Linked DNA regions of Homo sapiens: region 1 is linked to region 2. Evidence: fine-mapped expression QTL. A gene starts in region 2. The other region holds a variant in brackets. All regions are shown on one strand. Distances are from middle to middle.

The links.
Region 1: its variant is fine-mapped to the expression of GTF2F1 in skeletal muscle (GTEx, PIP above 0.99).

The regions. Positions count from the first base shown.
Region 1 is chr19:6,363,770-6,366,269 of GRCh38, forward strand. It overlaps CLPP (caseinolytic mitochondrial matrix peptidase proteolytic subunit), which reads left to right. Exons shown (of 6, transcript NM_006012.4): 4 at 683-870; 5 at 2,489-2,500. Among named protein-coding and RNA genes, the nearest start is that of CLPP, 3.5 kb to the left of the region's middle. The variant G/A (reference allele first, on the strand shown) is at 1,369.
Region 2 is chr19:6,391,793-6,394,804 of GRCh38, forward strand. GTF2F1 (general transcription factor IIF subunit 1) reads right to left here and starts at 1,372. Exons shown (of 13, transcript NM_002096.3): 1 at 1,192-1,372; 2 at 1,065-1,111; 3 at 110-182. The coding sequence starts at 1,203. It overlaps MIR6790 (microRNA 6790), which reads right to left and starts at 1,191; the gene lies at 1,129-1,191. It also overlaps the pseudogene LOC390877.

The DNA.
Region 1 (2,500 bases), 28 kb before region 2:
CTTGTAATCCAGCTACTCGGGAGGCTGAGGCAGGAGAATTGCATAAACCCGGGAGGTGGAGGTTGCAGTGAGCTGAGATCGCGCTACTGCACTCCAGCCTACGTGACAGTGAGACTCAGTCTCAAAAAAAAAAAAATAGCTGCTTCTGGCTGGGCATGGTGGCTCACACGTGTAATCCCAACACTTTGGGAGGATTGCTTGAGCCCAGGAGTTCGAGATCAGCCTGGGCAACATAGTGAAAGCAGTGAAACCCAGTCTTAATTTTTTTTTTTTTTTTTTGAGATGGAGTCTCGTTCTGTCGCCCAGGCTGGAGTGCGGTGGCGCTATCTCGGCTCACTGCAACCTCCGCCTCCCGGGTTCACGCCATTCTGCTGCCTCAGCCTCCGGAATAGCTGGGACTACAGGCACCCGCCACCACGCCCGGCTAATTTTTTGTATATTTAGTAGAGACGGGGTTTCACTGTGTTAGCCAGGATGGTCTTGATTTCCTGACCTTGTGATCCGCCTGCCTCAGCCTCCCAAAGTGCTGGGATTGCAGGCATGAGCCACAGCGCCCAGTCATATTAATTTTTAAAAAAGGAGGGGGGCTGCATCTGTTCCACCCTCCCCAGGTTTAGGAGATGGAATAGGGAAAGGGTCGGGGGGAGCTGGTCCAGCCCCTCACTTGCTCCCCCGCCCACAGGTGGTGTGGTGACCGCGGGCCTGGCCATCTACGACACGATGCAGTACATCCTCAACCCGATCTGCACCTGGTGCGTGGGCCAGGCCGCCAGCATGGGCTCCCTGCTTCTCGCCGCCGGCACCCCAGGCATGCGCCACTCGCTCCCCAACTCCCGTATCATGATCCACCAGCCCTCAGGAGGCGCCCGGGTGAGTGCCAGACACGCGAGCTGCTGTTGGGAATCAGGACAGGGTCTAGACAGAAGGACTGACTGGGCGGAAGTCAAGCGTGGGAGGGGATGTTTTTTTTTTTTTTTGAGATGGAGTCTCACTTTGTCGCCCAGGCTGGAGTGCAGTGGTGCGATCTCGGCTCACTGCAAGCTCCGCCTCCTGGGTTCACGCCATTCTTCTGCCTGAGCCTCCTGAGTAGCTGGGACTACAGGCGCCCGCCACCACGCTCGGCTTTTTGTATTTTTAGTGGAGACGGGGTTTCACCATGTTAGCCAGGATGGTCTCGATCTCCTGACCTCGTGATCCGCCCACATTGGCCTCCCAAAGTGCTGGAATTACAGGCGTGAGCCACCGCGCTGGGCCAGCCGGGAGTGGATGTCTTAAAATGTGCAGGCCAGGCTGGGTGTGGTGGCTCACGCCTGTAATCCTAGCACTTCGGGAGACAGAGGCGGGAGGATCACGTGAGCTCAGGAGTTC[G/A]AGGCCAGCCAGGGGAACATAATGAGACCTTGTCTCTATTAAAGAAAAAAAAAAAAAAGGCCAGGCATGGTGGCTCACGCCTGTAAATCTTGACACTTTGGGAAGCTGGAGCAGGTGGATCATTTGAGGTCAGGAATTCTAAACCAGCCTGGCCAACATGATGAAACCCCGTCTCTACTAAAAATACAAAAATTAGCTGGGCATGGTGGTGCGTGCCCATAATCCCAGCTGTTTTGGGAGGCTGAGATAGGAGAATCACTTGAACCCAGGAGGTGGAAGTGAGCTGAGATTGCGCCACTGCACTCAAGCCTGGATGACAGAGCAAGACTCTGTCTCAAAACAACAAAGGGAAAAAAAGAAAATGCACTGAGGAGTTGTTTGCTGTCTCTTGAGAATTAGCTTCAGCTGGGCACAGTGGCTCACATCTGTAATCCCAGCACTTTGGGAGGCCAAGGCAGGAGGATCACTTGAGGCCAAGAGTTTAAGACCAGCCTGGGCAATGGTGAGACCCCATCTCTACCAAATATTTAAAATGACTCGGGCATGGTTATGCTTGCCTCTGGTCCCAGCTACTCAGGAGGCTGAGGTGGGAGGATTGCTTGAGCCTGTGAGGTGAAGGCTGCAATGAGCTGTCTTGTACCACTGCATTCCAGCCCCAGCAACAGAGGAAGACCCTGTCTCAAAAAAAAAAAAAGGCGGCCAGGCATGGTGGCTCATGCCTGTAATCCCAGCACTTTGGGAGGCCGAGACAGGAGGATCACTTGAGGCCGGGAGTTTGAGACCAGTCTGGGCAACATAGCAAGACCCCATCTCTAAAAAAAAAAAACAAAAAACAAACAAAAAAAAGGCTTAGCTAATGCTGAGACAGAGAGACACTGTTCCTCCCAGTCTGCAAGGCTTCAGATGCAGAAAATAACATATACTTAATCCAGTCAGAAAGCCTTCCTGGTAGTGGCAAGACTGAAGCAGGATATCGGGGGATTTACACAACCCCAGCCCACCAGCCTCAAACCGGAAGCCCAAAGCCCAGGGAAGCTCCTGAGTGCCACCTCCAGCCTCCCTGTGAGGGGCTGACGCCGATACCAACCTTTACCCCCTCACTCCCTTGGACGTCCCTCAGGGCCAAGCCACA
Region 2 (3,012 bases):
AAATTAAGACTTAGTGACTATGACAGTTAAGCAACTATCACAACCACCAAGGTCAGGGTCAAGTTCTCTCACCACCCCAGCCCCTGACCCCCAGGACTCAGAGACTTACCTGATTCCACGTAGCAAAGTTGACTTTGTCGGCTGCATTAAAAGCCATGATGTTATATTTTTTGGTTGTATTCCTGGAGTGGATGAGAAGAGGTAGTGTCAATCCAATACAGCAATTCAATCATTAATTTAATCAGTCAATGCTATTGAACCATTAATTCAATCAACCACCCAACTGGATCGTTAATTCAATCAAATCATTACTTTAATTCAATCACTCAATTCAATTGAACCATTAATTCAATTCAATCATTCCATTCAATTGAATCATTAATTCAATTCAATTCACTCAACAAACCCACCCAGCTTCATTCAGCCTGTTTTGCCTGGCAACACTGGATACGGAAGACTCCAAGGATTCCCAGTCTGCCAGAGAAGCTAGACCCATCCTCTCCTGACCCCAGGCAGAAGAAGAGCAGATGGAGGGACGAAGATTTGGGGGAACCCAAGATGTGGAGATTATTGTGAACTCAGCCTTGGGGAGGAGGGAGGACAGGCAGGGAGTATTTCCTGGAGGAGGAAGATACTGGAGTTGAGTTTTGCAGAATCATCAAGAATTCACCCAGCAGAGTCACAGTTTAGGGGTTGAGGGGAGGCACTCATGGCAGAGGAACAGGATGTACAAAGGCCTGGAAAGGAAAGACAGCCTGACCACTTTGAAACAGGACGAGGAATATGTCCTTACAGCTGGCCTGGGCATCATGGGACCATATACTCCTCGAAGGTTAGGCCAGGGGGCTGGATCACCGTGTATTAATGCACTCATTCATTCATTCGTTCAAAAAAGCAGTGTTGTCCCCAGAGAAGCCTCAGCTTAATCCCAGCCCTGCCCTCCAAGTCTCTCCCGGTCTGGAGGGAGAACCACAGACAGGGCCAGAAATGGCTGGCTAAGAAGATCGTGAAGGTTTTCATTTTTGGGGGGTGGAGAGGAGTGGGAGATGGGGCTGGGGACTTACTTAGGAACTCGAACGACGTATTCAGTGACATTCTGGCTGCTAGGGCCCTGCGGAAAGAGGAAGCGGTGAGTGAGGGGTCGCCGAGGTCGCCGTCGGAACCCCCGAACCCCGCCAAATCCACACTCACTAGGGCCGCCATGGGCAATGGTCAGTGGTTCCGATCTGGTCCGACCCGGGTTCCTTTCGTCTCCTCTGGCGTGCGCGTCCCTCGATCCCGGGGAAGCCGCCGCTCGGTGTCGGGTCTCTGTGCCTGAGCGAGGACCCCAACCCTAGGCGCCTCTGGCGCTGGGAAAAGGTAACCGGAAGAGGCGCTCAAGCTACTCGGTCTACGCTTCTGCGGCCGCCTAACCCGGAAGCGAAACCCTCGAGCAGCCGCGTCGCGATGGCAACCTTCTTAGCGACTGTGGCCACCTCAGTGCGCAGTCACTTATGCTCCTCGGCGGCTATGGTCACCTCAAAAGGTCCACCGCGGTCCCTTTTTAGACTCAGCAAACCTAGGCCGAGTCTGAGATAAACTAACGGGCCTCTGTCGCTGGCGCTCTTGTATATAACGCGGTTAACTTCATCAAATGGGGGACCGCCCTCTCTCGTGACGTCAGCACCCAAGGACCGTGGGGCATCCTGGGTGGGAAGAGGGAGACGAATCCCCCTTGCGGGCTCCCAGGCACTTTGCGCATGCGCCTTGCCGCTCTGGACCTGGGGGGCCCAGAAGGCCGCGTCACCATAGCAACCGAGGCCTACTCGGGTCGGGTCGAACCGCCGCTTGGCTCCCCATGGGTCTGTTTGGGGTTCATTTCCTCCCCCTACCCCGAAGGGGTGGACCCCGTCATTCCCGCAAAATGACCGGGGCGGGGACCCTTGTGACGTTGAGCCGAGCCAGGAGGGGTCAGAGCCTGGGCGGGGTCGGGGCGCGACCACCCCAAGAGCTGCTGGCCGGATGGGTCTTTGCAAGTCCAAGCTGCCCGAGATGGGCAGGGCTCTGAGGCCCCAGGAGAAGGGTAACGTCGCGGGGGCGGCTGGCTGGCTTCCTGGGGGGAAGGGAAGGAAGCTGCCGAGAACAGGAGGGAGATGCAGGATCCCCTACCCCGTTCCAGGCATGCACACATCCCCCGAATCATGGCAGTAACACAACTGCGCATGCTCACGGCGCAACCATTCATTGCTCCACTTCGCAAATACTCCAGCACCTCCTGGGTTCGGGGCCCCGCAAGGTGAATCTGTCAAACCAGCTCCCCACGGAGGATTACAGTGTCCTCTCGAGGGTTACAGTGTCGTGGAAGAGACAGAGTCACAGCATGGGAATCTACAACCCAGGAAGGAGCAGGAGAAGCACAGCGGGGCTCTGAGGGCTCAGAGAAGAGGGGAGGTTTCAGTTGGGCACTGAGGGATGCATAGGAGTTGGCTAAGCAAAGGGAAGGCGGGCAAGACACAAAAGTTGGGCCATGAACTACAGACACCGTCGATGTGTCTGTTTTCATTTATTTCTCATCCACCACTAAATGTCAGGAACCGCCAACCCCTAGGAATATAGGAATGAGGGAGGCAGAAATAGTCCTTGCCCTCATGGAGTGTCTGGCTTGGGGGAGACAAGAACGAGTAAACGGCTGGGCACGGTGGCTCATGCCTGTAATCCCAGCACTTTGGGAGGCCGAGGCGGGCGGATCACCTGAGGTTGAGAGTTCGAGACCAGCCTGACCAACGTGGAGAAACCCCGTCTCTACTAAAAATACAAGATTAGCCGGGCGTGGTAGCACATGCCTGTAATCCCAGCTACTCGGGAGGCTGAGACAGGAGAATCGCTTGAACCTGGGAGGCAGAGGTTGTGGTGAGCCGAGATCGCGCCATTGCCCTCCAGTCTGGGCAACAAGAGCGAAACTCCGTCTCAAAAAAAAAAAAAAAAAAAAAAGAAGGAAAAGAAGGAAAAAAAAAGAACGAGTAAACAGAGAAG